Linked DNA regions of Homo sapiens: region 1 is linked to region 2. Evidence: fine-mapped expression QTL. A gene starts in region 2. The other region holds a variant in brackets. All regions are shown on one strand. Distances are from middle to middle.

Region 1 (15,002 bases), 140 kb after region 2:
TGGGACTAGGCCTTGGCTTTTTCTAGTCAGGGGTGTGTGTAAGGGAACTCCTTGCAGGAAATGCTTCAGGGAATACTGGCCCAGTCCACCTCTGCCTGCTCCCTAGCCTGTCACCCTCTGAGCCCCAAACCCAAGCCTCACTCAGCCCTTCCTTATCTCTCCTCCCCAGGGTAGAACCCTCCTCCCTGTCGCTGTTATCTCCAGCCACCAGCTCAGCCTTTTCTTCTTAGCGTCCCTTGGGGCACAATGGCCACTGTCCCCTGGGAGCTGGCCTTCTGAGGGGCATTGTAGGGGCAGGCGGCTGGCACTGTCCATGCCAAGAGACAGCTAGTATTGTGGTGCCCATAATTAATGAGACAGCTCTGGCAGCTGCTCCCCAGCCCATGCCAGGGGCCTAGGCAAGCAGGAAGTAAAAATATTCCTGTCTTAGGAGGGTGCCTGGCTGGTGAGGTCAGCAGTGGCAGCCCCTTAAGGACAAGAGGCATCCAAAGAAGGGAGGCGTCCAGGGCCCAGCTCTGCCTTGTCCTGCCTAGCAGCCTCCATGCCTCCCTGCTCTCACTGATGGCCACACTCACAGTCCCTCCCTGGCTCTTCCTACGTGGAGGGAGAGGGACAGTCTCTCCTCCTGTCTGACTTTCATCCCTCCTGCTGCAGAGGAAGCTCGGCAAGCCCATGGATGCTGAGGGGTTGGTAGGTAATGCTTTTCCTCCCCTCTCAGTCCTTAGTATTCCCATGGGCAGTGACAGGCAGCTGGGAAAGATGGAGTGGCATTGCTAGTAATAATAATGACATTCTGCAAACATTTGCAAAGCACCCACATGTGCCAGACACTATATTTGCACTGAGAATGCAGCGGTAACAAAGACACAGCTTGCAGTCTAGGGGGAGAGAAAGTTATCAGTCAAATACACAATGAATAGGTATTCATCAAATGTGATAAGGGGAATAACAGGAGTGTTTAACAGAGGAACCTGGCATGAAGTGCCTACTATATACCAGGCACTGAGCTTGGCATTTAATATACAACTGTTCATTTAATCCTCACAACACCCTGGTAGGCAAGTAGTGTTACATGCGTTTTACAGGTGAAGAAACTGAGGTCCTGAAGCTTTACTTAATTTGTCCTCACTAATAAGGGGCAGAGCTGGGATTGGAAACCCATGTCTGCCTGACAACAAAACTCCAGCTCTTAACCTCTATGCTCTATGGCCCCTGGCTCTGACATTGATCTGCTTTGTCCCCTCGGGGAAGTCGTTTCTCCCTAGGCCTTACTTTCTTGGCTGCCCCTGTCAGTGGCTGTGGAATTGGAACTGGCCTCTGGCTCTGGGTAACCCACAACTGGACCAAGGACTGGGTTCTTTCAGGGGAGAGGGCTGGTGGGGACTGAGAGGCCTCACTGATGCCCCATCCCCCACGTCCCCCATACCACCAGGCTGCCTGGCGCCTGTACTCCACCGATATGAGCCGGGCCTACCTGACAGCCACCTGGTACTACTATGACAGTATCCTCCCATCCTTCAGGTAGGTCCTGCTGGGGGTGGGGGTGGGTGGGGGGCTGGCAGCAATGCCCTTTGAGGACAAGTGGCTGAGACTCAACCCTGGAGGGTGGAAAGGGGGTGATGGCTCCCAGGGGAGCACCCTGGGCTGGCTCTGCAGATCCTATGTAATTCAGAGCCTGGAGTGTCCTTTATTCCACTCTGCTATGCCCAGGGAAGAGGTGGATACTGGACATAGGGCATTGGTGAAGCCCTGCCCCATGGCTGAACCCCGGCCCTGGAGTGCTGGCAGTGTGCATGCTCACCCATAGGTGATGCCATCTAGGGCAGTGATACAGCCAGCTCGTCTCCCCTCAGTCCTGAATGGGGGACAGAGTTAGTGGATATTGCAGCTGGTTGGAGAAAGTGTGGGATGGGCAGAAACATGTGTTCCAGACTTAGGTGCATGCTCCTACCCTGAACCCCCATGTAGGAATATGTGCCCACTTTTACTGGGCCAGTCAGCAGCCTCAGGGCCCAGAAGTGGGTCTGCCCCACTGGCCCGGGCCAGGCTAAGACTGCATGGGGGTGGCACCAGGAGAGGGATTATTAATAGCATCACAAAGGTGCGTGTGGCCAGGTGCCTGGCTAGGCCCTCAGGCAGGAATGAAAACCATGGAGCCCAGCTCGGTCCCACGGGCAGGCGGGCATCAAGCTTGTGGCTGGGGCAGGATGCTGTGCTCAGCGCTTCTGCGGGTGCCTTTTTTGCCTCATTAGTTCTCCAGGAGAAGCTGTTGCGCGATTCCACTCGCCTCTGCACCTGGCTTCCCCATCCCTGCGCCCTCCCAGCCCTAGGGGCTTCCCAGGGGAGAAGCAGGAGAGAAGGGGCCGGGAAGAGGGGCTCCCAGCATCACACTGGTGCCCCCACATCTCTCCACCCGGCAGAGGCAAGCTCCTACCTCAGAGTGGGAAGGTGACTAGATTAGAAGAGAGGCCTTTTGTTCAAGGCTGGGCATTCGAGAGTGGGGCAGGGCTGATTTGTAAGAAATACAATGTGTATGAGGGAAGATCTGGGGGTGGGGGTGGTCAGATGGTCTAGGACCTCTGCCCAGAGGAACAGAGCCTAGTCTGGAGATTCTGGATCCACTGGGCATCTGCTCCCTGGACCTTAGTTTGGTCATCCATGCAATGGGAAGGCAGGCAGGAGAGAGGGAAGATACCCTCCTTGGCTCATGGCAGCAGAAAATGGCCTGGAGAGTTAGGAAGAAGCCACGGTCCCGAATCTAGTCTTCAAAAACCCAGTGGCAAGAGTGAGTGCTGGAGGGGAAGGAAGCTGGGCTAGCCACCCTGTCACACCGCCCTCCTCACCTCCATCTCCCCTTAAAATCCAGAGTCAGATCTGGAGGGAAAGGATGTCAGGGCCACTGCTGGCCTCTCTGAGGAGGCACGGCACGTTCAGGCAGTCAGCTTGATGGGCTGAGAGTAAGCTCCTTGCACGGCTGCCCTTGAGCTGTGCCAGCCTTCACATCCATGCTTGGCATCCCTGGGAACTGGGGGTAGAAAGGGAGTGGGGAAGGCCAGTCTCCCACTGTCCACCCTGTCCTATTCTGGCCGGGCTGTCAGTGAACACCTCTAGAGCAGCAGGACCTGGCAAGATCTGAGCTCAGGAGCTCTGTGCCCACTGGGTGAGGGGGGTGGTGCCATGGCCCTGCCTGCCACTGATGGTGCCCTCTCCTGCAGAGAGCTGGCCCTCTTGTTTGAGCACGTGCAACGGGCCCGCAATGGGGGCCTACGGCCCCTGGAGGTGCGGCGGGCGCCGGTACCCGACGGAGCACCCTCCCGTTACCCGCCCGTTGCCACCTGCCACCGGCCGGGCAGCACCTCCTTCTGCCCTGGGGAAAGGTAGGGGCCCCGTGGGGCTGCCACCTCCTCTTGCTTCTCCTCCTCTTCTTCCATTCTCTGTCTTCATCCTCTCTCAGACCTGCCTTCAGCCACTTCGTGGGTGTCTGGGCCTGTTTGGGGGACTCCTAGGCCGTCAGAGGGCCAGACAGGTACAGACTGAGGGCCTCTCTGGAGGGGTCAGGCTGGACTCACCTTTTTGTCCTGTGGGGCTCTGAGGGTCTGAGTGGGAGAGATGTCCATGCCATCCTTTCCCATCATCTCCTCCGTTCATGGCATTGTCCTCTTTCTTTCTCTGTTCCCACGTCCCCCTTACTCCTCCATCCCTGCACCCCCATCCCTCCCGGGAAGCTGGACAGAGGAGGAGGCCACTGGCCACAGGTGCTTA[C/T]GGCTCAGGTAATCGTGGGCACCATCCTGGGGTGTGAGGGCAGGGAACCCCCTCCCCCGGCATGTTGCTCTAGGAGGGACTTAGTACTGAACTCGCCTCTTGGGAACGAGATGCCAGCTGGAAAGAGAGCTCTGTGATTAAGACCTCTGTAGGACCTGCGTAAACTCAGCCAGTGACTAATGTTCCTTTCTTGTGCAGCCCTTGTCTGCAACTTTGCTAATCCCAGAGGGTCCTCTTGGGGTTCTGTTTCCTTCCTTACTGAGGTACACTTTGGCGCTCCCAGCCATCTCTTTCCCCTTGAACTGTCTCTCCTGAAGCTTTTTACAAAATCTTGAAAGAAGAACAAAGAACAAACAATGCTTACCCCCACATAAACGTTCCTAAAGAGAAGAATTTCAGGCATGTTTGGATAAGGGAAGCCCGTCCACTCACAGCATGGGAAAGTGGCTGCTCTTGTAGAGGTTTAGCTTTGAGGTCAGGGGTTAAATCCCCCTCATTCTTTTTCCCTCGTCCTTTACCCATCTCTTTGTTTTGTCTCATCTTCACACATCACCCCTGAACCAGCCAAATGGACATCTGGCCTTTGAGCTTCAATGTCATTCTGAGCCCCAGGCCCAGAACAAAGAATAGGAGAAGAGGCGAGCCGCCCAGTGATCAGCAGGGGAGGCGTGGTGGAAGCTCGCCTCTGCCACCCGATGCTGTGTGTCCTGGAGGAAGCCTTCAGTCATTCTGAACCTGTGTGTCCTGGCGGAAAATCGGCAGTGTTTAGGCTGATTGGGGCTCTGGGTACTCTAGAGTTTCTGGGCTGAAAAGGCCTAGGGAGGAGTTTTGGTGCAGAGGATGCAGGGAGCAGCCTCCCTTCCTTGTTCTCAGTGAGGGCACTTCTGGGCCAGGGGCTGAACAGGAAGTGGGTGGAGAGGGAGAGTCCCTCCAGGTCTGGGGCTGGAGGGAGGGGAAGCGTGACTGCCAGGCCAGGCTGAGAGCTCCCTGGGAGAGTAGGGCCCCTCTCAGATTCTCTGCCCGAAGGTCCCTCATTGTTACCTTCATCCCTACCAAACATAGTTTCCAGGCGGAAACTCAAGAGTTTTTGTATCCCAGCAATCCTGTCCAGGACCTGAGCCAGGGCTCTCTGTGCTTCCAGTTCACTCTGGTCTCATTTTGACTGAATAGGAAGGCAAGGGGAATGGACATTAGCCTGGGGCCTAGTACCTGTACACTCCCCACGGCTCCTTTGGTCCCTGACACCCCCAGGGCCCAGGAACAGATTACTACTAAGGGCTTGGCTGTCACTGACTCCCAGCCTCGTATCTATCTGCCTGGGAGGGGACTTGGCGAGTGTCTGGGACACAGGGTGATGGTAGTAAAGTGGCCCTTTCTCCCAGGGACCCCAGGGGGCTGAGCCATGGTTTGTAGATCAGTCACCAGGCTCAGGCCCAATGGCCGTATCGTTAATCGTGGCTGTCTAGACCGCCAGCCAGGACACCCTTCCTCCACCAAAAACACACACACATATACACACTCGGTTGGCCACACCTCTGGTGGTGCTTGGGGATGGACCTGGGCCAAGTGTGCCCACAGGAAGTGGTGCTAAAGGAGCAGGATTTCCTGGGGGATGGCATTGCCAGGGCCAGCACCTCTCCTCTTCAGGGTTTTGCAATGAGTTTATCAAACCATGGTCTCCAGACCTCCTGCATCAGCATCCCATGGAGTGTTTGTTCAAAATGCAGATACCTGGACCTGTCTCCAAGCCCACAGGATCAGAATCTCTGGAGAAGAGACACAGCCTTCTGCATATGTAACATGGTCCCCAGGGGATCCCTATGCAAAGTGTGAGAACATCTACGTTCTGGTGATGGGGCTGGAGGATGATTTAGGTGGGGGTCCTTCTTTCCCACCAGCTACCGGAGGCCGGCCCCATCCCAGCAGCTCCCCACACTCTGCCCACAGCCCCTTTCCCGCTAACCTCTGTTCGTGTCTTATTCTCAAACTTCCAGCCAGATGTTTAATAATAAACGGAGTTTCTTTCGGATCCACGCCAGCTGGAGACCGAGGTACCCCCTCGCCTGCTCCTCCTGTCCCCACTCCTCCTTGCCCCACCCAATTTGGGGGCTGGAGAGGGGACAGGATGGGCCAAGGACAAGGTGCATGTGCCTGCCGCCTGCCGTCTGCCTTGGGTGCCCAGTGAACCCCTCGCCTTTCTGGGATGCCTCTGCTAGGTCTGGGGCATGGGCCCAGGGTGCCAGGAGGGGCACGTGCAGGAGCCTTAAGGATGTGTGCTGGCTCTGCTGCTGATGCCCTCTGTGATCTTGGCCAAATTGCTTCCCTTCTTGGACCTCAGTTTTCCGTCTGTGGAATGGGCAGATTGAACTAGAGGACCTCTGAGGGTCCTTCTCACTCTGACTTTTGCCAGGCCTTGGGCTTAGCTTTCTGTCTCCCTGCTACCCACCTGGGGACCTAGCAGATGCCTGAAGGAGCTGGGTTTGGCACCTTTGCCAGCTCCAGGACCCCAGCTCTTTTAGCGGCATCTCCATGGCATTCCTTGGTACCTGCCCTGTGCCAGGACTTGCTCTGTGCACTAGGGACACGGTGATGAATAAAACATCGTCCTCGGAGAGTTGCAAAGAGTAATTGCAGCTCAGTGTGATGAGTGCAACAAAGGGAGGAAGCACAGGGGCTGTGGAGCCCGGGTCAGGCACACAACCCAGAGGAAGCCCTAAAAGCAGTGGGTTTCAGGGAGGGCATTCCAGGCAGTGAAGCAGCACGGACCCAAGCAAGGAGGCAAGAGGGAGCACAGTGTGGGGAAAAAAGCTGGCAGCCCAGTTTGGCCCCCCTGAGACTGGACATCAGAGCGAAGGTTGGGGGCAGAGCTGGGTCATGCAGAACCTAAAAGCCCAGTGTGAGCTTCACCCTGTTGGCATGCTTGGCAGCCTGAGCTCATGGAGTCCTGGGTTTCCAAAGGTGCCTCTGGGGCCCTGTGGGCTGGGGTCCCGGAGCTAGGAGATGAGTGGCAGGGCTCCTGGCTGCCCATGTGTGCTTCTGCTGAGAGGTGTTTTTTCCTAGAAACGTGGGTTCTGGACCACAATCTAGCTACTACCCACTATTCGTGTGTCCTTGGGCAAATCACCTGACCCCTTTGCACCTCAGTTTCCTCAGATGTAAAATGCAGATGTAAATAGGGTCTGCTTCCACTAAAACTGGACCTGGCTCCAATAAATATTGGCCTTATTTGATTTGGTATGTTCAGCAGTTAAGATCTTATTTACCTTAAAAGAAAATAGCTTAGAAACCATGGCTGTGGGCAATGGTTTGAGCTGAAGCGTTGAGCTAAGGAGTCTCTGGGTCAGGCCCGCCATTTTGCAAGCCTCCTTTGGCTGTGGAGGGTGTGGACAGGAAGGACACAGCCATGGCAGAGGCCAGTGGCGAGGCTGTTTCCATAGTCCCTGAAGAGGGGCTGTATGTGGCTTCAGAAGTCGTAGGCTGCCTCTGTTCCCCCAGTGAGAGTGGCCCTGGGAGGGCAGATCATGAGGCCCTAAAGAAAGTCCTTGTGGAAGTGAGTTCAAGGGGTTGGGACCAGCAGGGCAGCCTGGGCAGAGCTCGGCCTCCCCAGCAGGGCAGCCACAGTCCAGCCCACCCCATCTTTCTCCCAGGTACCAACAGATCCTTAGCCAGAGTTTCTTGACCTTGGCATCATTGACATTAGATAATTCTTTGTGGATTGCGACTATCACATGCATGGTAGGATGTGGAACAGCACCCTTGGCCTCTACCTACTAGATGTCTACCTACTAGACATTGCCACATGTCCCCTGAGTGGGGGAACTTGCTCCAGTTGAGAACCACTGCTCTACACCCTATCCTGATTGCTTGACCCAGAAAAAGAACATAGACTCTGAAGTCAGAGAAGGCTGGGTTCCAGTTCTTGCTCCATCTCATAGGAGCTCTGTGACCTTGGCCAAATCATCTCACCTCTTTCCGTGTATATAAAATAGGGATGGTAAAGACCGCCCACCACACACAGTGGCTGAGAGAACTGAAAGAACTAAGGCAGCCTGATGGGACCCTGCACGTTCTGGGAGCCTGGGAGGGGAAAGAGCTTTTTGGTGCCCACTGTGTGCCAGGTTTTCTTCCACCTTCTTTTAGCTTTCAGACTTAGAGGAGCTGATATGAGCCATTTTCTGGGCCCTGCCCAAGGAACTGGAATCCAGACCCACTCCTGGGAAAACAGTGCCTTCTTGCATTAAAAAGGAGCTCAGGGCCTCTGGCTGGCTGGAAACTTACAGAACCCCACAAACCAGACTGGAAGCTTCCTCAACCATCACAGAATCAGAGCTGGAAAGGGACCTTTCAAGGTCTCTAGTGCAAGCCCTCGAACTCCTTCCTCCATAAGTCCTGCTGAGTGCAAGCTCAGCCTTGCTTGCATTACTTCTTTTGACAGGGAGGTTGCCCTCTTCTCCAGAACGCCATTGGAGCCTTATGTGGTGGGCGCAGTGATGTGGAGTTCCAGGCCCTTGGCCAAAGTGTCAGGGCCTTCTCCACTCTCCTCTCTTCCTCTCCCTCTTGGAGGAGTGGAGGACAGGAGAAGGGGTTGCACGGACCGGGCAGGGTGGAGGGTGCTTGCCAGCATGAGGGAGCCTGCAGGAATGGCTCTGCAGAGGAAAGTTTGGGAGAGCCAACCTCAAACTTTGATTGGAATCTTTGGGATGTGTCGATGGAGTCCTGGGCCAGTGGAGAGCATGCTGGATAGTGGGAACTGGGAACTGTCCCTGTCCTTTTGATACCCTCAGGGCCCCCATCCTTGACCTATTAACCTCTCCCCTCTGGGCAGAGGCCGCCACCCCTAAGGATGGCCCTACATCCTGGCCACCTTCCTGAAGGTGCCCCTGGTTTCGAGGTCTCCCTCACTTCAGCACCTTGGCTCCCTCCCCTCCACCCCATGCCCTGGGCATGGGAGACCCCAGTTCCCACCCAATACCGAAACCAGAATCTCTTCTCTGCTCAACCCTTGATCTGAAAGCCTCTGAGAGTAGGTGACACGGTGTCCTCCCCCAACTCCTGCCCCACTTCAGGTCTCCTCTAAGGCTGGCTGGTACTCTCTTGATCTGGGGCCCCAGACATTTGGGGTGGGTCCCCCTGAACCCGAACCTGAACCTGTCGGAATCTCTAGTGGCAAACCACAGCAGGGGAGGCAGCGATGACGTCACAGGGCATGGGATGGAGGACATTTGCATAGGTCCTACCCCAACAGCCATAACATTGTCCTTGAACCTCTTGGACACAGAGTTACTCTACCAGATCATGGTTAACCAGGGCTTGTCCTGGGGAATGAGGCCTCTGCTAACTTGTTTTCCTCCAACGTTTGGGGAACGTGGTGGGGAGTTGGATGCGGGAAGGGAAGTCTGAGTGCATGTGTAGACGTGCACGTACACGTTCACATGCACACAGACTGTGTAAATGCTGTTGAACCGGGAGCTCAGTAGGCAGTATCGGGGGGTAGATCTTTAGCGGGGATCCAAGACCACACAGGCAGGATGTCAATCAAGGTGGGCTGAACTTAGGTAGGAGAGACCACAGAAGAACATGTTATCAAATAGAGACCCTCACTGAGAGGGCAGGCACCAGGCATGGCCTGGGCATACATGTGGGCCCAGCAGCTAGAACCATGGGGCCGAGGCCCTCAGTAGGCCATCACGCTGCACACCTCCAGGGCACCACTGCATGGAAGTCTGTGTGATGGAGTCCTTATTTTGCAGTGCACTGCCTGCACAGCTGTACGAGGCCCTAAAACCCTGACCAGTGTGGGATCAGATAGCCGCAGCAGTGGGGAGTGGAGGAAAATATGAAATGACACATGTAAACACACGCCAACATATGTACACACACCAGTGCCTGTACACCCACACTCGCACATGTGTGTGCACAAGGTGTGTGTGTGCATGCGCGCACACACACACACCCTCGACTCCACACAGCCTGCCCCTGTGTACAGTGAGGACTGGAGGCCTACCTCCGTGTGCATGGCCAGGTGAGCTTCCGACCCTCAGCAGCCTGTCTGTGCCCAAAGGGGTCGCCACCCCCACCCTCTGCCCACTCACCTGCGCCAGGCCCAGCTCCCACATCCTCCTGTCTGTGTCTCTGACTTTGGATTTCTCCCACTCCTTCCACTCTGACATCTGTCTCCTGTGCACCCCTTATCTGTCCGGGTGATGAGGGGTGGGATGTGGGTGGTGGGGAGAGGATCTGCTTCGACTGACCCCGAATCAGCCTCTTGTAGGAGTGAGGGCCTCCCTTACCACATCCTTGTTCCATCCCAAGAAGTCTCCGCTTGGCGGGGAATCCAGACCTAATAGCCACCCCCAAGTCCTAAGTCAGCTTTGTCCCCACTCACCCCCACCCCCAGCTCTGGCTAACTTGGCTCTCTCCCAACCTGCCTGCCCTGCCAGCAGCCGGATGGGCATCAAAGACCGCATCCGCATGGGCAGCTCCCAGCGGCGGACGGGTCCTTCCAAGCAGCATCTGGCACCTCCAACAATGCCCACCTCCCCAAGCAGCGAGCAGGTGGGTGAGGCCACCAGCCCCACCAAGGTGCAAAAGAGCTGGAGCTTCAATGACCGCACCCGCTTCCGGGCATCTCTGAGACTCAAACCCCGCACCTCTGCTGAGGGTAAGCCCCCGGGGGGCTGAGTCCGATCGAGGGCCGGCTGAGGGTGGCAGGGCGGGGACAGTCTGGGCTGGGAGCAGAAAGATCTGGCTCGCGTCTCAGCTCTGGAACTGATGGACCGTCTTTGGGCTCTGGTCTTCTCATCTGTAAAATGGGCATTATAATATTTGCTCTGCTATACAATGGACATCAGACTGTTTGGGAATCACGTGGAGGGTGGCATTTCATAGGGGTTAGCAGCACAGGCTTTGGAGCGAGACTGCCTGGATTTGCATCCTGGCTTTGTCACTTATCTTAGGCGAGTGACCTAATTTCTCTGGGCCTCATTCTCCTCATTCATAAAATGGGAACAATAATAGCATCCACTTCCTAGGATTATTGTGAGGATTAAATGAGATAATCCATGGAAGGTGAACAGAAGACTTTTGGGAATATAGGAGGTGCTCAACAAATAGCTAAACACAAATGTACTTTGGAAGCGGCAGGAATGCATCCTTGATGAGCCCTGACTATGCACTGCCCAGCACTGGCTTATCTCATTTACTTCTCCCAGTGACCCTGGAAAGTAGGTTCTGTTTTTGTCCCCACTTTACAGACGTGGGCACTGAGATCTCTCAGCTTGTGAGTGGCAGAGGTGCTCTCCTCAAGCAGGTCTATTCAGCTCCAAAGCCCAGGCCTTCTTCCTACCCCTCTTCACCCAGCCCAGGCTGCAAGTATGAGACTGTGGACCATGCTGATGTCACTTTTCTGAGTTTTGGCTCTGCTGGAGACTTCCACTGTGATTTAGGCAGGAGACTGCCCCTTTCCATGCCTCAGTGTCCTCTTCAGGAAAATGAGAGGGTTGGACCAAGCCCCCTGGAAGACTTCTCCCAGCTTTGACATACTTTAGGCCCCTGGGTGGGGAGAGGTGGGGTGAGTGCACAAGGATGGGGGATGGGGACAGCTCCCCCTTTGGCCTTGGAGGGAGGGGACCCAGCCATGCTGTTTCTGCCTGTGCTGTGTCAGCCCTCAAGATGCTGCTGGCTGACACCTCAGAGTTTACAGAACCCCATAGACCAGTCTTTGAGAGGTGCTGCCCATAGAAGCCTGGGCACAGCTGGTGCCCAGGACCTCCCTTCCCTGTCCTGGAAGCTGTCCGGGCTCTTGCCACTGCTCCTGTGAGGCAAGGACAGCATCACCTCTCTGCGCAACACAGGGCACTAGCCTCAGAGAAGCTTCTCTCATTCAGGGAAGAATGGTTTGTTTTAAGGGCCTTCCCTAGTAGCAGAGCTGGGCCTGGGAGCCAGCCACTTGGGTGTCCTTCCATCTTAGCTGAAGGAGAAGACTGTGTGCATGATTACATGCAGTGCCATCAAACCCCTTATCTCTGGGGCTCACTGTTCTGCAAGGTGGAACCAGTGGGGCTTCCTCCAGGGCTTTGTGCAACAAACTTGCCCTGGACTAGGCCAGCTGTGCCCTAAAGCAGCTCCCACCTACCCACCAGGCAGATGTTTACCCTGACTGGCCACCGGGGCAGATGGGCATGCAACACACTGGGGCTTTCCACCCTGGGGAGGGCAGTGAGACACAGGAGCCCCAAGAAGGTTCTGAGCCCTTTCTGGGCCTCTGTCTTCCTATTGGACACTCTACTGGTGGTTTGGCATACAAGGGTCGGATGGGAGGTTGGGAGTGGCCCCTTTGGTGGGCCACTTGCCCCATACCTGCCTTTTCAGATGCCCCCTCAGAGGAAGTAGCAGAGGAGAAGAGCTACCAGTGTGAGCTCACGGTGGACGACATCATGCCTGCTGTGAAGACAGTCATCCGCTCCATCAGGTAAGACTGAGGCCTGAGGCGAGCACCCCCCTCCGTGTGCCACCCACTGCTGCTCCCCATCTGGGCGGGTGGATCACTTGAGGTCAGGAGTTTGAGACCAGCCTGGCCAACATGGTGAAACCCCGTCTCTACTAAAAATACAAAAAATTAGCCAGACGTGGTGGTGGATGCCTGTAATCCCAGCTACTTGGGAGGCTGAGGCAGGAGAATCACTTGAACCTGGGAGGCAGAGGTTGCATTAAGCCAAGATAGTGCCATTGCACTCCAGCCTGAGCAACAAGAGTGAAACTGTATAAAAAAAAAAAATGTATTTTTTATGGTGGGTCTTGGTCAAAAAAGTTTGAAAGCCCCTGCTCTACTGGCTGTCTCCATGCCTCAAAAATTAAGCAGGGACCAGGGTCTCCTAGGCCACGGCCTAGGCATGGATCTGGCCTCCAAGCTCCTTGGTGTGCCGTCCTGGCCTAGTCTCCATCTCCAGCCTGCAGCTCTAGCTCCAGAAACCCCCTCAACCTCCAAGTTTTCTGGGCTCCCCACTTTCTTCCCTGGCTGATACACCTGCCCACAAGCCTCTTTTCTTGTATTCCTTTTAAAATTAGAGTCAGGCTGGGCGTGGTGGCTCATGCCTGTAATCCCACCACTTTGGGAGGCTGAGGCAAGAGAATCACTTGAGGTCAGAAGTTCGAGACCAGCCTGGGCAGCATAGTGAAATCTTGTCTTTGCAAAAAAAAAAAAAAAAAATTAAAAAATTAGCCAGGCATGTTGGTGTGCCCCTGTAGTTCCAGCTACTTGGGAGGCCAAGGTGGAAGGATGGCTTGAGTGCAGGAGTTTGAGGCTGTAGTGAGCCGTGATTGAGCTACTGCACTCCAGCCTGGGTGACAGAGTGACACCTTGTCTCTAAATAGATAAATAGATAAAATCAGAGTCAGCTGGACCTGTCCCCACTACCCCCCACAGTCTGAAGCCTCTGCTTACCCCCTTTTCACCCATCCATTCTCTCCCCTCCATGTGCCCAGTGTCAAGGACATAGTACCTGACCTGCCACCTGACCCAAGCCAGCTCTCCTGGGCCACCCCACCGACCTCTCAGCCAGCATGCCCCAAACCTGCTCCTCTTCCTGGGCTGGTTCCCATTTCAGGCAGTGGCACCACCATCCACTTGGTCACCCAAGCCATGGGAGTCATCCTGGACTCAGACCAGGGAGACTTTCAGCCCCACCTCCTGAACTGCTCCAAGCTCTTCCATATCTCCTCCCCCATCCCCTAAAGCTAGTTTCCCTGCCCACGCCTCTGCCCCTCCAGGGTATTCTCCACACAGGCTGGCAGAGCTGGCATGCTAAAGCAGAGTAACTGAGCCGGGAACAGTGGGTCACACCTGTAGTCCCAGCACTTTGGGAGGCTGAGACGGGCAGATCGCTTGAGTCCAGGAGTTCGAGACCAGCCTGGGCAGCATAGTGGGACCCCCATCTCTTTAAAAAATAAAAATTAAAAAAAAAAAAAACAGAGTTATTGATGTGCCTGCCCCACAATGTCCCATTGCCCAGTCTCTGCCAGAGATGCAGGGCTCTTCAAAGCACACCCCAGCCTCCTTCTCGAGGCTGATCTCCTGTCTTCTCATACCATGGCACCCTGAACCCCATCCTCCACCCCGGCTGGTTGATTAACCCCTTTCCATCTCATCCCTGTTTCTGCTACTTGGAGGTAGGGGAGGCTGGGAGACGCAGCAGAGGCTGTTCATGGTGGCCAAGCAGGAGGTGCCCTGGTGCTGGACAAGGGGATAGCAAAGAGATGGAGAGGGTGCTGGGAAAGAATCCCTGCTCTAACAGGACACTCCCTCTGAGCCCCCTCCCCCAACAGGATTCTCAAGTTCCTGGTGGCCAAAAGGAAATTCAAGGAGACACTGCGACCGTACGACGTGAAGGACGTCATTGAGCAGTACTCAGCAGGCCACCTGGACATGCTGGGCCGGATCAAGAGCCTGCAAACTCGGTGGGTGCACCGGGCCTGTTGGGAGGCAGGGGCAGGGAGGCAGCGACCCCAGCCCTGAATGAAGTCTGAGGCCAACCCCCGAGCACCCCCAAGGGCTCACTGCTGCAGCTGAGTTTCTAGACTGAGGAGGTCCCTGGCTTGCAGTGCCAGCCTGAGGCCAGACCCAGCACCCGTCCCAAGGCTGAGAAACAACCCAACCATAGTTTCTCTGTGAGGTGGGTCCTCTGTGCAAGCCCTATTGACTCATATGCCTTGGGGGCTTTGTTTAGAATGACTGTTTCCTGGTCCTAAAATAATCAGCCTAAAATAATCACTGACCTCCCATCTCCCAAGAGAATAGGCAAATTGTCCTCACTGCCCACCTCTTGCCTCTGGAATCCTCCCACATCTCTCTGGTAGACCCAGCATTAGGAAGAATCCTCACCCCAAGACCCACATCACCTGCACCTTGCCCTTCTCCTCTTCTGGCCTGCATTTTCACTGTCCACTCATTCATTTAATCACTCGAGAAATAGTCAGTGGGCATTTACTACTTGCCAGCCTGTGGGGATATGGCAGAAAGCGCAGCAGAGTTCCCACACTTATGGAGCTTTCATTCTAGTGGAAGGAGAATAAGTGATAAATAAGTAAAACTGGAATATGTCAGACAACGATAAATACTAAGGAGGAAAATAAGGGTCAGGCTGTTAGGGTTTGCAATTTTAAATAGGTGAGAAGGTTCTAGAGGGAACAGCAAGTGCCAAGGACTTGAGAGGGGCAAGTGGCTGGAGTGTTGGCTTCAGCAC
Region 2 (16,009 bases):
ACATTGTTTAGTCTGCCTAATCCTTTACTCCTACTTTTCTGAGAAGTGTTACTCTATCCTCTACCCTCCAGCATACCTTCATTCATAGAGTTACAGTAGATACAACCATGTTTATGCATGACCCTGTCCCCCTTTCCATAATGATACTTGATTCAGTGGTGGACATTTGGCCAAAGCTAGCTCTAACAAGAGCTCTTCCTCCCAGAAATTTGAAATTGAGCCTAAGAATCTAGTCACCTGGATGATTTTTTGAATGGAGGCAACTTGGGACTAATTGGTTACCATGTTTTATATGACATGGATTGGGAAAACTGGTCTTCAGAATGATAAAGCAATGACAAAATGGTTACACATATTGGGGAAAGTTGGATCTAGGTGTTCAAAGGATGTCAGGACTCTGTCTCCCTCTCTGTCTGAATTCTGCCTTCCTCTGTGATGTCTTCATTCTTAGAAAGGCTCTTTCCATGAAGCAAGAATAATGGCTGCCCTCAGTTCCTCATAGCTCAAGATCTCCAGAAGAAAAATCCTGTCTTTCTTATATATTTCAAATCTTTAGAAGGGCTTTTCTTAGCTTAGTTTGGGTGATGTGCCCATCTCTTCAAAAACTGTGATCTGTTTTAGCAAGGTTTCCTAGAAAACAAAGCCGGAAGAAGGGATTAAGTGCTAAAGCTTTATATGAGGGGCACAGCCATGGAGTAGTGAGAATTAAGGATAAGAGAAAGTGGGAAAACATGAGAAGCAAGGGAAGGAAATGTTTGCTGGCTACTTCACAATGAGCTGTAGCTAGTCTCTTGACAGGCGCACCCACTTGGCCATGGAGAATGTCTCTCTAGACAGGTTGTATGGAGAAATTTTATCTTGAAACAGCTCATTAGAGGAAGGAAGGGAAGAGTGGATTGTTATAGCCAGCTCCTTCCTGTCTCCCATTGATCAGTTTGCTCTGTGGGTAGCTAAATCCTCTGTAGTAGGTTGCTTCACTGGCTCCTTCAGCAGCTGCTCAGGAAGCCAAATCCCACGCTCTGTGAGGTGGTGTTTCATCAGGGTCTGGAAGTTGCAGGAGAAGCCATAGACTCCATGTTTGTAACTTGATGGCCTCAAGCAACAGAACTGTGAGACCTCGCTTAGATTTGGTCAGCTATGTCTGTTGTTGAGGTGGACCAAGTGGCTAATTGTCTGGGAGCCAAATTACCCTGAGAGGCTATGAGGAGGTACTGGGCCAAGATGTGGGAGATCGCTGATTGGTCAGACTGGGTCATGTTCCTACTCCTGTGGCTAATGGGGTACAGAAGATGTGCTATGGTAGGATGCATCCTGTCCTCTTTCCCTTCATGTTAGTTCAGAGTCTCAGGAAATCAAACGCCAAGACAGAATAAAATGCAATAAATTTATTATGAAAAACATAATTTATTAATATATATATTATATATATTAATATATATAATTATTAATATATAATATAATTATATTATATATATATTATATAATATAATATATATTAATATATAATAAATAAAAAAATTTATTATGAGAGGAAATGGAAGGGGAAGACTGAGAGAGCCATCGCACAGTGACGCAGGCCTGACCCTGAGTGAAGGACAGAGGGAAGGTGTTCAAGGTGGAAGTGTCTCAGACTGCAATGAAGTTCTAAGGAAAGTTTGGCAAGGCCATTGAGGAGTCCTTGAGTCAAAGTCACCCATCGGAAGAGTATCACTTATCCCAGGAACAGTCCTGTCCTAAAATCCCCGTTGGGCTCAGTTATTGGCTATGAGCAGCGTATGGGAAGTAAGACCTCGGAGTAAAGGGCAATGGATTTCAAAGCTCAGGATGGATTTCAGAACTCAGCAGCTGGACTGCTGGTAAATTACAATTTCCTCAGTCAGAGATCTGAGAAGCACATTCTCATGGCCACACACCCTCCCAGCCTAGCCAATACATAGATGAAGAAGGATAAATTCTACAACCTTTAAAGAAAAAAAAAAAAAGTAGGCTGGACGCAGTGGCTTACGCCTATAATCTCAGCACTACGGGAGGCTGAGGCAGGGGGGCAGATCACCTGAGGTCAGGAGTTCAAGACCAGCTTGGCCAACATGGTGAAACCCCGTCTTTACTAAAAATACAAAAAATTAGCTGGGTGTGGTGGTGGGCACCTGTAATCCCAGCTACTTGGGAGGCTAAGGCAGGAGAATAGCTCGAACCTGGGAGGCAGAGGTTGCAGTGAGCTGAGATCACACCACTACACTCCAGCCTGGGTGACAAGAGCGAAACTCTGTCTCAAAAGAAAAAAAGTAGAGTGCCATTACCAGTTGAAAGGGCAAGGGGTATTCAGCAGGCAAGACAACAAATGTCCACCCCACAGCTTACAATGTGCCACTTGTAATTCGAACTCTATATATCCAAACTTGAACTCATGACTTCTCCATACCCTGACTCTTCATCTGAAGACTACCATCCTCCCAGGTGTGACACATGGGAGTCATATTAAACACCTTAATTTGGCCGGGCACAGTGGCTCACGCCTGTAATCCCAGCACTTTGGGAGGCTGAGGTGGGTGGATCATGAGGTCAGGAGATCGAGACCTTCCTGGCTAACACGGTGAAACCCACCGTTTCTACTAAAAAAATACAAAAAAATTAGCCGAGCATGGTCGCTGGTGCCTGTAGTCCCACATACTCGGGAGGCTGCGGCAGGAGAATGGCGTGAACCCGGGAGGCGGAGTTTGCAGTGAGCTGAGATTGCGCCACTGCACTCCAGCCTGGGTGACAGAATGAGACTCCGTCTCAAAAACAAAAACAAAAAAAACCCTTAATTTTCTTGTTCCCTAACCCCTCAATCGCCAGTCAATGGTCAAGTCCTTACAATCTTTCCTTGGCAATATCACCTCAGCATTTGTATCCTCTTTCCTCCATTCTCATTGCTGATGATGTGTTCAGGCCCTCGCCCTCATTATATCTTGCCTAAACCATTGTGGAAGTCTCCACATGGTCATTCTGCCACTCTACTCCATCTTACTCTCTTTTCCAGATTGCTTTTAATCATAGTTTTGATCATGTCACTATCTTCTGTAAAACCTTCTACCATTGGGAATGTAAAATGGTATGATGCTATGGAAAACAGTATGGTGGCTCCTCAAAAAAAAAAAAAAATTAAACATAAGAATTGCCATATAATCCAGCAATTTCACTTCTGGGTATATACCCCCAATAATTGAAAGCAGGGACTCCAACAGATATTTGTATACTAATGTCCACAGAAGCATCATTCACAGTGGCCAAAAGGTGAAAGTAGAATGGTGGTTACCAGAGGCTGGGGAAAAGAGAATAGGGCGTAAGCGTTTAACGTATACAGAATTTCAGTATGGGATAATGACAAATTCTGCTGATGGATGCACAACGTGAACAGGCTTAATGTCACTGAAATGTATACTTAAAGATGGTTAAATTTAGGCCAGGGGCGGTGGCTCACGTCTGTAATCCCAGCACTTTGGGAGGCCAAGGCAGGTGGATCACCTGAGGTCAGGAGTTCCAGACCAGCCTGATCAACATAATGAAACCCCGTCTCTACTAAAAACACAAAAATTAGCCGGGCCTGGTGGCACGCGCCTGTAATCCCAGCTACTCGGTAGGCTGAGAAAGGAGAATCGCTTGAACCCGAGAGGCGGAGGTCGCAGTGAACCGAGATTGCACCATTGCACTGCAGCCCCGGCAACAAGAGCAAAACTCCATCTCCTAAAAAAAAAAAAAAAAAAAAATGGTTAAACCTGTTTAAAAGCAAAACAAAAAACTTCTACCACTCACTTCCCGTATCAGAAAATAAAGCCCAAGAGCCTTAATTTAACCATAATAATGTATCTTTCCATGATTCTTCTTCCATTCCCTCTTACTCTGTGTTTCCTCAACTGATCCCTCGCTTCTTCTATTTGCTTTAGTGGCTGCCTACATGTCTTCCCTAATTTTACTCATTTTTCAAGACCCAGTTCAAATGTCACATCCTTGCAAATCTTTCCTGAACTCCTCCCACTATTTCATACTAAGTGGAAGTAAGCTTTCCCTTTTTGAACTCCAGCAGCACATGAACTATATCTTTTAGTGCCGCTTTTCTATTTTTTGAGACAGAGTCTCGCTCTGTCACCTAGGCTAGAGTGCAATGGTGCGATCTCGGCTCATTGCAACCTCTGCCTCCCAGGTTCAAGTGATTCTCCTGCCTCAGCCTCCTGAGTAGCTGGGATTACAGGCGTGTGCCACCATGCCCGGCTAATTTTTGTATTTTCAGTAGAGACGGGGTTTTACCATGTTGATCAGGCTGGTCTCGAACTCCTGACCTCGTGATCTGCCCGCCTCAGCCTCCCAAAGTGCTGGAATTACAGGTGTGAGCCACCACGCCTGGCCAGCGCTGCTTTTCTTTTAGGCCAAAGGTACACAATGAGATAGAGAGGTGTGGCTTAAGGAAGTCCAGCTGGCTGTCTAGACAGGTTCTGTTATACAGTGCTATAACCTTAAGGAATTTACCATGATACAAGAACTGATGTTTAACCTTGCAAACTCAGAAACCTAATTTTAATAGTAAGCAGAAAGTTGAACCATTTCCTGGGGGTAGGGGGTGTCTTGTATTTGCCAAGCTCACAGAAACTTTTATATAAAGAGGAATCTAACTGATTAGTTACAATGAAAAATACAATGATCAAAAGAACTAGAATACTCTAGGTGGCAGATCACTTAATTCTGTCCCTATCGCCAAGACACTTGCTGGGTGAACATAGAGGAAAGCATGTTGATCTTAAGAAGTATTTCTTAGCTGAGGCAGTCTGAGATATTCCCATCCACTACAGAGATGACACGGGCAAGGAAATCCTAATGCTCAGTGTGGCTTAATTGAGATGAGGCTTAGAGGGGCAATGGTAGTGCTAGCCTTTGTGACTGCCTTGTTTTGGGCTGCCATGGCTGAGCAAGCCCTTTTGTTCACAGAATCTCTCTCCAAACAGGGTACAGAATGGCTGACGAGATTGATTAGGTTCCATTTATTAAATTACAATATCTACCTTCTTCAGGTTCCTCCCATATGCCCTTTATCAGAGTTTGTTTTGTTTTGTTTGGTCATGTTTGTAAAAAAGGTCTTGGCTTACCCCCATGGATAGCTAATTTCATGGTTGTATTAGTCTGCTTAGCTAGCATGTTATGCTGCAGTAACAACGAAAACAATCTCAGTGGCTTACAACAAAGGTTTATTTATTGTTCACACAACATTACAGGTTATGTGTGTCAGCTGTCGCTCTGCACATCTTCATTCTGGGACCAAAGCTGAAGAGGGAGCTCTATTTAGGACATGCTGCTCTTGTGTCAGAGGAAAGATAATATGGCAAAATTGTAAGATAGCTCATAAATTTCTGCTCAGAAGTGGTTCATGCCATTTCTTTCTTTCTTTTTTTGAGACAGAGTCTCACTCTGTCGCCCAGGCTGGAGTGCAGTGGCGTGATATTTGCTCACTGCAACCTCCAACTCCCTGGTTAAAGCAATTCTCCTGCCTCAGCCTCCCGAGTAGCTGGGATTGCAGGTGCCTGCCACCACACCTGGCTAATTTTTTTATTTTTAGTAGAGACAGGGCTTCACCATCTTGGCCAGGCTGGTCTTGAACTCCTGACCTCGTCATCCACCCACCTCGGCCTCCCAAAGTGCTGGGATTACAGGTGTGAGCCACCGTGCCCGGCCGGTTCATGCCATTTCTACTCATATTTCATTGGTCAAAACAAGGCCAAGCTTGACGACATTAGGGTGAGAAGTCTTTCACCCTAATCTCCTAGGGACAGGCCAGATAGCAACGGCTTTAGAAAGGGAAGGGCGGAGGCTATTGATAATAAAGACTATAGCAAGGACTAATATTAGGCTTATATGTATCAATTGACTGTTATCAGTTATAACATTGACTATTAAAATACTGAAATACTCTAGTACTACCTGGTAAATAGCTGCTGTCCCAAACCTCCTGACCACTCCCTTCCCCTGGGATCCCTTGGGACCTCCTATTCACAAACCAGCAACTGAAGGGTTAACACCTAGCACAGACGTATACCTCCAGGATCCTAGCTGCATTTCTAATTCTGCTTCATCTATGCTTGAGCACTACTTGTTGTTAAATATACTTAATATCACTCTTAGCTAATTTCCTCTATGTAGATTTTTATTTATTTCTGAGGGCAACCCAACTTCCAGGCTCTTGGAAGGAAATAGACTGCAGCCCCTAAGTGTGATCAATACTTAATTATAACAATAATCACTAATAATAACTTGTGCTGCTTCATTGTAACTAAATGTACACTTTTACATTTTTTGGCAAGCATAGTATATGCAATAAGTACTCAATAAACATCTGTAGAGAGACTTATTTAGCTTTTTTCCATTAGCTACATCTGTCTCTACAATCTCAACATACTATTCTCTTGAATCTGTTTTTAATTTTATGCCATTTCTCATGTCTGAAAATGTCATTATAAGTAACTTTTTTTTTTTCTGAGACAGGGCCTCGCACTGTCGCCCATGCTAGAGTGCAGCGAGACACTCGTAGCTCTTACCAGTAACTTCTTTATAACACTTTTGCAATTTACGAAGCACTCTCACATTATTTCATTCACTCTCCCCAACATTACCAAAAGTTAGGAATTAGATCTTTTTACAGATGAAGGAATTGAGACTCCCTGAAGTCAAGTGTCTTATAGTTAGGTTTTGTTCATTCATTCATCAAATAGAGTGCCTGATGTGAGATTTATTGAAACTGGATTTGAAAACAATTTTCCTGAATTCAAGTCGAGGGTTTACTCCACTATTCTCAATTACTTTATCACCAGGGTTATAAACCCAAAGGAAGTGAGTAACAACAGTGTGATTTTATTGAGGACCCATGCAACACTAGTCTCAGAAAGGCTCCAGTGTCATTTGTAAAATTCAAGGTTACCATCAGCAGAGGCAGTCATTCCTCTCTGCGCTTGTTACCTAATGCACTAACTCTCACTGTAGGTAATTCCATTCAAGACACATTTGATGACTATACCTACAGGTTTTGAAGTTATTCGGATGGGGTTTTGACACTTACTAGCTGTGGGGACTTAGATCAAGTTACTTAACCTTTTTGAGCTTCAGTTTTATCATTTGTAAAATGGATACAATCCTGATGCCTTTGGACCAAGTGGTCACGGAAATGAAAGAGATAAGTATGAAAAAATCCATGCTCATAGTAGCTGTGGTTTCCAACTGCGTGATAAAACTTTAAAATCTGCATTCAAATAAGAACAACTATGTCGACGTAAGGTTACAAGCTAACTATTCTTGGTAAGTACTGTTCTTTATTCTAGAGGACATCACTTTACAGTTTGGTGCTAAATGCTCTTTTATGAATTTAAGGTGCCAGTAGCTGTCTACTTGAACGGCATGCTTAATCTGGAACGCCATGTCGACCTTCATCCCCCAGTTCTTTCTCCCCAAATTAAAAACACAAATACACACACACGCCCCTACTTAGTTCCTAAAACTCAAGGGCACGCGCACACACCTACTTATTTCCTAAAATTCAAGCTCGCACCAAGGAGATCCACAAGGATAGGCAGGGTGGTGGAGGTCACTGGGCAGCGCCTCCGGATCCCCCGAAAGGGGGCGGGGTCAAAACTCAGATCTCGAGCTCCCGAAAGGGGGCGGGGTTAAAACTCTCAGATCTCATTCCGCCTCCCTCTGTCGTCGCCCCTTCCCAATTCTCGCGAGACCTCAAGGAGCACAGCTTCTGCGCACCGCACGATACTGGGAGTCCAGGCGCCAAGGGAGGGGGAAGGGAAAAGGGGAAACGGTGCAAACGGCGTGGCCGCCATCTTGCTTGTGCCCCCGCTTCGCGCGCGCTCCGTTCTCCGTGACGCACACTTCCCCCTCCCCTCCGCCGCGCCTGGGCCTCTGCATTGCCCGACTCCGTAGGAGCGCGGGGGCGGCTCCTGCTCTTCCTGGACTCCTGAGCAGAGGTGTGTGAGTGTGCGGGAGTTTCTGTGCGAGGGTGATAGGGAAGCGGCGGCGGGGGGAGGGGCAGCGCTTCCCGCCTTCGCCAGAGACCTCACTTCCTCGCGCGGCCGCTGCTGTAGCTCGGTCCGTCCTGCCCGCCGCCATGTTGTGCTCTTGCCTGGCCCGCTGCTGTCGCCGCCGCCGCGCTCGTGGGGTCCGTGTGCCTCGTCGGCCCGGCCCGCGGGCTTTCTCCCATTGGCGGAAGGCGACGGCGGGGGGGCTCGCTCGTGATTGGTCGGTGGCGGGGAGGCCGCGGACCTGGCACCTTATTGGACGCGCCAGCTCCGGTCTAGGGGGTGATGAAGGAATCTGAGGCTGCGGGGATGCGCGCGTCTTGGGCTAGGGCGGCTGGGGCAATGACCCCCTGCGGCGCAGGCGTGGGGTTGCGGCGAGAGGGCGAGCCTAGAGGCTTTAAGGGGGAAGAGAGGGTGATGGCCTGGCAGGTACTTTGGGGGTAGCTTAGGCCATGGCCTGGGAATGGGGGACACTCACTTTCAGAGGTGCTTTTCCTGGTACATGCATGGCCCAAGATTGGGGTGTGCAGGCCCTCAGGGTTCCAGGCTTGGAAACACCGAAACCCAAGTGACAGGCTGAGAGTCTTCGAGATCCAGGGTTGCTAATGTGACCCAGTTTGGAAGTGGCCCTGAAGTCCACGGTGTGAGTGTATGGTGTAGGAAGAAAGGCATCAGGGCTAGGGGCATAGCTGAACGGTAGAATCGGATCAGGGATTTTGCTGGAGAGTGCAAGCATTCAAACACTGAGGTTTTGGTGGAGCCCTGGAGTCCAGAGTCAACGGACCTGGGATGTGATGTGAGGAGCAAGTAAACCGAGAGAGGAATGCTATTGAGAAGTGTGCTCTGTCCGAGCCTAGGAAGCACAGCATTAAGTAGTATCAGATTTAAAGTGACAAAATCTGATATAGGAAGCATTTTAGGGGACATTTTCGGACTTGGGAAGTGTATTAATAGAACAGTTATACATTATTGAGTCTCAGGACCATACAAGTAGTTTTGAGATGTTGTATATGAAATTTGCTGCTCTAGGAAGGATACAGGTCATGGCTGAGTTTCCAAAGCCACATTAGCAAATATTAGGTAGTTGGTAGTTATTTGTTGAGTAAATATTGTTAGGTTCCCCTTTAAGGGAAAGGGAGCTAGCCAGAAATTTTCGGTCTTGGTTTATTTCCTTGTATATGTGCCTAAAAAGTATACCCATTCCCATGTGTACTTTGAATTTTTTGTTTGTTTTTTCAAATAAGCAGCTCCAAACCAAAAAAAAGCCCATGCATAGCTTCTTAAGGAACAGGACTTGTCAACACTTTCTGGTTCATATTCAAAAAGTTTTTATTCCAATCCAGAGTCGTTCCAGTCAACTTGTTGGGAATATGTTCTTTTCCACTGAATCTGAATCGTAGTTACTTGTATTGCTTTACATTTGCTCGTCCCAGTGTGTGAGGGCCATGGAAACACATTTATGTTAAACATCTGTGTTTTCCTAATTTGTTTTTCCTTGTTTTTGTTAGGTAGTCCTTTTTAGCTTTAGATGGTACTCTTCTGTTTTCATACCAATTTCAAGAAACTCCTAGGGTTTTCAAATTTAGTTTTATGTGAATGCAACTACATTTTCTGGAGAAGGGAATTGATAAGTAGCAGAGGAAGAGAATTGCTATTTTGGGGCATATTTTAACTCCAATAGGTAGGCATTATCGTCCCCATATTGCAGATGAGGAAACTGAGGATCAGAGAGTTTAAGTAGCTTGTCTGGTGTCACTCAGTAAGTGGTTGAGCTAGAATTCAAACCCTGGTTGCCTGATGCCAAAGCCTGTAATTTTATCTGCTACATCAGCTATCAACATAAACCTGACTAATGAAACTTCCAGATAATTTTGTATTTCCAAGTGGATCATCTACTTTGATTTCTGGGTGTTTAGAGTGTATAAAATGGAAGACTATAATTCTTAAGAATTTCTTGTGCTGCTTAAGGATTCAGACCACAGAATTGTAACCATAGAGAATATGGGTTCTTCAGCTAGGTATTCAAATCATATCCCTTGGCTTCTATTGTGAAAGGGAAGATTTACCAAGTAAATTGCTGCATTTTTTCCTGAATCCAGGTAGATAATGGGGAAAAATATGTACAGAAACTTGAAGAATCTGCATTCCTTAAAACCAAGCTTCAGAATATTGCAGATAGTCTTTCTGTATGTGGAGGTAATTTATGCCAAATGGCGAGGAACTACCAAGTGCCTAGTGTAAAGAGCTCACTGGAGAGGTTTTTCAAGCATCACCAGTTCCTTAGGGTGTCCCCAAATACCAGGACCTATTCAAAGGCCTAGTGCTTTCTTCAGACTGTGGGATATTGATTCTAGGATATGCTTATCCTGAACAATGTGTAAAATTAAGACTGGATAGGACAAAATATTTGCAGTTCCAATTTTGCATGGAAACCTTTAAATCAGGGTTTGAGAGGAGACCAGTGAGTTGGAAATCTTAATTGCTTTATGTCTTGATGTGCTTAGGTGAAGCCCTCCCTCATTTTTGTTTACAATAACGTTTCACTGTGGAAGATAGAGGCAAAGCTACAAGTGAAAATAGGGTTTGCCATGTATTTTGTACATTGGTCATTTCAGCCTCATTTGGCTCAGTCATCAAGTTAACCAAATATGAAGAATGCTGTAGATCTATAACTTAGTTTCGTTTTTAGTAAGACTAGACAAGGTGATAAAAATGAGTGTATATGTACACCTTTTTTTTTTCAGCAGGCATTTCTGGAGCAACCTGCCCTTCAACATTGGTGACCACCTTCATTCCATGTTAGCCCCTTATACCCATGGCCACCTTGTTAAGATCTGGAATTGACCACTCTAGAAATCTTGAACTCTCAGGAAATCTCAGTAGATCTGAGTTTATGTTGAAAACTTGTGAACCTCAGCTTTTTCTTCAGGCAGAAATCATACTAAGATTTATACTTTATAGGCTGTGTTCATGGCATCTTATTTAATTCTTATGACAAATCTGTTATCTCATTTATACTTACACATTTTTTTCTTTGGTCAGAACTACTAGAGACTGGGCGCAGTGGCTCACGCCTCTAATCCCAGCGTTTTGGGAGGCTGAGGCAGGTGGTATTTGAAGTCAGGAGTTTGAGACCAGCCTCGCACACATGATGAAACAAAATTACAAAAATTAGCCTGGCATGGTGGTGGGCGCCTGTAATCCCAGCTACTCGGAAGACTGAGGCAGGAGAATTGCTGGAACCCGGGAGGTAGAGGTTGCAGTGAGCTGAGATTGTGTCACTGCCCTCCAGTCTGGGCAACACAGCGAGACTCAGTCTCCCAAAAAATAAATAAAAATCCCAAAACTGTACTAGAGAAGATTTTACAAGGCATTTTTATCCCCTTTTATTTTCAGAGAAATGAAGGCAAAGCGAAATGAGGATTCATACCACAGAATTGTAAACATATATGGGCTAAACCCATTCTGTGCTATGGAGCTATGCTGGGAGTCTTGTTTTGGGTTTTGTTTTGTTTTGTTTTTTGAGAGTTTTACTCTGTCACTCAGGCTGGAGTTGCAGTGGTGTGATCTTGGCTTACTGCAACCTCTGTCTCCCGGGTTCAAGCGATTCTCCTGCCTCAGCCTCCCGAGTAGCTGGGATTACAGGTGTGCACCACAACACCCAGCTAATTTTTGTATTTTTAGTAGACACGGGCTTCCACCATGTTAGCCAGGCTGGTCTTCAACTCCTGACCTCAGGTGATCCACCCACCTCGGCCTCCCAAAGTGCTGGGATTATAGGCGTGAGCCACCGTGCCCAGCCAGGCTATGCTGGGTGTCTTTTTGAGGTAATTTTGAAATTTATATCTTTTAGTTCAAAAGTACTGAGCCACTAGGATCTGTGAATCAAACACAGGGATAATATAGTTACTACTTTTATTGAGTGCTTGCTTACATTGTACCAGCTGGGATATAAATGTATTATGTATATTTATTCTCATACACTATGAGGTAGATAATATAGCCACCCTCATTTTTACGTGTGAGGAAACTGAAAAGTAATTTGCTTAAGTTCTCACAGCCAGTAAGTAGCAGAGCCCAGATTCAGACACGGATTTGTAATTCTGTTTTTTTTTTTTTTTTGAGATAGAGTCTCGCACTGTTTCCCCAGACTGGAGTGCAATGGCGCGATCTTGGCTCACTGCAACCTCTGCCTCCCAGGTTCAAGCGATTCTCTTGCCTCAGCCTCCTGAGTAGCTGGGATTATAGACGCCCGCCACCATGCCTGGCTAATTTTTTGTATTTTTAGTAGAGACGGGGTTTCACTGTGTTGGCCAGGCTGGTCTCAAACTCCTGACCTCGTGATCCGCCCTCTTCGGCCTCCTGAAGTGGTGGGATTACAGGTGTTAGCCACAGTGCTCAGCCACAGATTTGTAATTCTTAATTCTTATGTAAATGAAGCCCTTACTCTTAAACACTGTGTTGACACCATAGAATGTTATGGGAAAAGAAAAAAAGTCCTGGCTTCTTAGCTCAGGAAGCGAACTTCAGTTCTTTCAGGCGTGTCCTTTGTACTGAGGCTCCAAAAGAGTGAGATGACCTTGACAGGGTCACTTGGCTATGCAAGGGCAGAGCCAAATCTTGCCCAGATCACTGGATTTCCAGATAGGTGCTCATTCCACTGGATAGCATTGCCTCTCCTGTGGACGCATTGACTTGATGGCAGAGATGACTTTAAGTGACAGGTTTACTTCATTCACCGGAATGAGAATGGCAGAGGACATTACTAGGGTCACAAATGACCTTCTTAAGGTCAATCCTGGCCTCAGGCATACAACCAGGAAGAATATTCCTTTGCCAGTAAGTTGTTCTTTTCCATTCTGTTTCTTGTTCTCAGAGGAAACTGGTTGTGAGTTATCTGATGTCTTACAGTCTTTCTTTTCATTTTGTTTATTCAGTTTTTCATGCATGCACTGTCACAGTTTAGGAAGGCTACAAGGTCATTTTAGTGTTTTCCTGCAGAGACTCAAAGCACTCAATATAATGTAAGTAGATTAATTGCAGGAGGAAATGGATTTTTAAAACTTTGGCCAAAAAGTGCCTATGGGAGAGGACAGTATTAGTTGCTGATTGGAGTCAGACCAAGGGAAGAGTTCTGTCTCTGCAGTGCATTTACCCTCTGTGCTGGAGCAGGTTCTTAACTTGTTTCTTCTTCTGTAAAATAACGACAATAATACCTACCTGTAGGGTAATTATGAGAAATGAATATAATAGCGTGTGGTAGATGCCTATCACTTAGTGGACCTTAATAAGTGGGAGAACACATTTTCATTTTGGAACAGCATGAAATCTGTCCTTTCAGCCCGTTACAGCTTCCTTGATGAGGAGGGGTGAGGCCTTTTGTAATTGTCTGCTCTGCAATATACAGTAAGATTTCCAAATGGGAGAGCAACCACTTGACATGAAGTAACCTAATTTAGTTGTGCTGTTGTGGTTTAGGAGCTGATTTTCAGTGGACCAGTGTGAGGTCAGTCTTACTTTTGAATGCACAAAGTAGTAGGATCATTTGTTTCAGGGAAAGATTGTTTCCTGATCTCTTTTGTTCATCCCCAAGTGTTGAGTGGTAATGATTGCGATGCGATGAAAACTTCTTCATATTTGACAAATAGCAATGATGATTAAATTCGGAACAACTGGTGTTTTCATTCTGACCAGAAGGAGAGATTTCCATTATAGTCATTTAAAATTTTTCTAACTGTACAAATTATCAGTTGAAGTAGGACCGTTGGTTTGGTTTGTGTGATTTGTAGTCACTTGAGTAACGTTTTCTTTGAAGTAAGCAGTTAGACAGTATTGTGGAATGGTTCAGGAAAAATCTCTCTGCCTGCAGAAAATTTTGCTAGGTTGCAGGAATTGTTGCACCCTTCCCACACTTCTCCATGTGTTAGCAGTGATGTACCTGATAGCAGTGAGACAGCACCTGTACTCATTTTCAGTATTGGAGTTGTATTTTCCATTTTGTTATTTTCAGATCTCCAGATAGATTACTTCTACATCCAGTACTTCATGAGAGCTTTCTATTGTATAAACTTGTAGTTTAAAGAGTGGAACTAGAGTCTAATCTTTGCATTTGAATGTTTCCAGTAGAATACGTTTAAAATAAAGGTTGAAATATCCATGTCTGGTCAGGCACAGTGGCTCACGCCTGTAATCCCAGCACTTTGGGAGGACGAGGCTGGCAGATCACCTGAAGTCAAGAGTTTGTGACCAGCCTGGCCAATATGGTGAAACTCCGTTTCTACTAAAAATACAAAAATTAGCCAGGCATGGTGGCAGGCACCTGTAGTCCCAGCTACTCAGGAGGCTGAGGCAGGAGAATCGCTCGAACCCAGAGGCGGAGGCTGCAGTGAGCTGAGATCATGCCCCTGCACTCCAGCCTGGGTGACAGAACGGGATTCCCTCTTTGAAAAAAAAAAAAAAATTCACGTTCAAGGTACTATATATAAGGTGTCCTATTTAAATGAATGCCATTCATTCATTTATTTATTTGCTGGAGTCTTGCTCTGTCGCCCAGGCTGGAGTGCAGTGACATGACCTCGGCTCACTGCAACCTCTGCCTTTTGGGTTCAGACGATTCTCCTGCCTCAGCCTCCTGAGTAGCTTGGGACTACAGGTGCGTGCCACCACACCTGGCTAATTTTTGTATATTTTGTAGAGACAGGGTCTCATCTTGTTGGCCAGGCTGGTCACGAACTGCTGACCTCAGGTGATCTGCCTGCCTCAGCCTCCACTGCGCCCAGCCTGAATACCCTTCATTTAAAGCCAATAGTATATCCTTTGCCTCCCGGGTTCAAGTGTTAAAGTCAATTGTATATTCTTAATAAGATTCAATAATTGTCCTATTCTTAAATACATTCATGAGTATGAACCATAAATAGTGATCTTGAGCAGTGTTTCAAAGTGTTTTAATAAGAGGAATGAGATGGGCCGGGCGCCGTGGCTCACACCTGTAATCCCAGCACTTTGGGAGGCTGAGGCGGGCAGATCATGAGGTCAGGAGTTTAAGACCAGCCTGGCCAACATGGTGAAATCCCATCTCTACTAAAGATACAAAAAATTAGCTGGGCGTGGTGGTGGGCCTCTGTAACCCCAGCTACTCGGGAGGCTGAGGCAGGAGAATCGCTTGAATCCGGGAGGCAGAGGTTGCAGTGAGCCGAGATCGCGCCTCTATTGCACTCCAGCCTTGACGACAGGGTGAGACTGTCTCCAAAAAAAAACAAAACAAAACCAAAAAAGGAATGAGATGACTCATAGGAAATGATGTTAGAGTATAGAATATTTTGTATCATGTCATTGGCTTAAATCTGAAGTACTGAAGGTTTTCACAATCCCAAATTACTGTTGCCCTTGGCCTCCAGAGCTGTAAACTGTCCAGTAATCTCTATGAAGTTGAGATTCTTTGCCCAGTGTTAAGAAGATATATCCCTTTGACACTGGCATGATCTGTTCCTTTTAAAAGAGAAGAGAGAAGGGGCTAATAAAGTACACATTATCTGCACAGTTGACATCCTTGTCATTTTAAACTGTTTTAAAAATTATTACTGTACCCTGAAAGTAAGTAGCATAGAATTTGCTCATTATGAAATGACGAAGTTGGGGCCTTTTAAGAAGCCAAGAATGCTTGGTTGGCAATCACTTAGGAGGCAAAGGATTGCTATTTATGGTGGTATTTAATGTCATTTTCAGTAGTACTAAGTTAGAAAGGAAAACGCCATAATGTGTGTAAAACTCTAACCATTTTGGAAGGTTATCAGAATACAGTTGCCTATAGTCTTTTCACTCCACTAAAATTTGTAAGTTGGTTTAGAGTAGCATTTCCCAAGCTCTTCCACTGAACATTAGTTCTGTGTAGTGCTAATCAGTGTCCTTTGGGGATAAAAAGAGGATCCTTGACAAAAAATGGCCAAAGTGAAATGCCTTTCTTTACT

What was found.
Region 1: its variant is fine-mapped to the expression of NFYC in whole blood (TOPMed, PIP above 0.99).

What each region holds. Positions count from the first base shown.
Region 1 is chr1:40,820,882-40,835,883 of GRCh38, forward strand. KCNQ4 (potassium voltage-gated channel subfamily Q member 4) reads left to right here. Exons shown (of 14, transcript NM_004700.4): 8 at 1,433-1,521; 9 at 3,216-3,377; 10 at 10,203-10,423; 11 at 12,133-12,232; 12 at 14,086-14,217. Among named protein-coding and RNA genes, the nearest start is that of CITED4, 34 kb to the right of the region's middle. RefSeq lists enhancers at 1-377, 89-233, 131-275, 3,666-4,569, 13,718-14,243 and cis regulatory regions at 152-169, 194-211. The variant C/T (reference allele first, on the strand shown) is at 3,763.
Region 2 is chr1:40,683,877-40,699,885 of GRCh38, forward strand. NFYC (nuclear transcription factor Y subunit gamma) reads left to right here and starts at 7,828. Exons shown (of 10, transcript NM_014223.5): 1 at 7,828-7,991. NFYC-AS1 (NFYC antisense RNA 1) reads right to left here and starts at 8,385. Exons shown (of 1, transcript NR_024567.1): 1 at 5,204-8,385. It also overlaps a transcript of RIMS3 not described here. RefSeq lists a silencer at 8,236-8,335 and enhancers at 8,576-8,745, 8,766-8,815, 15,350-15,399.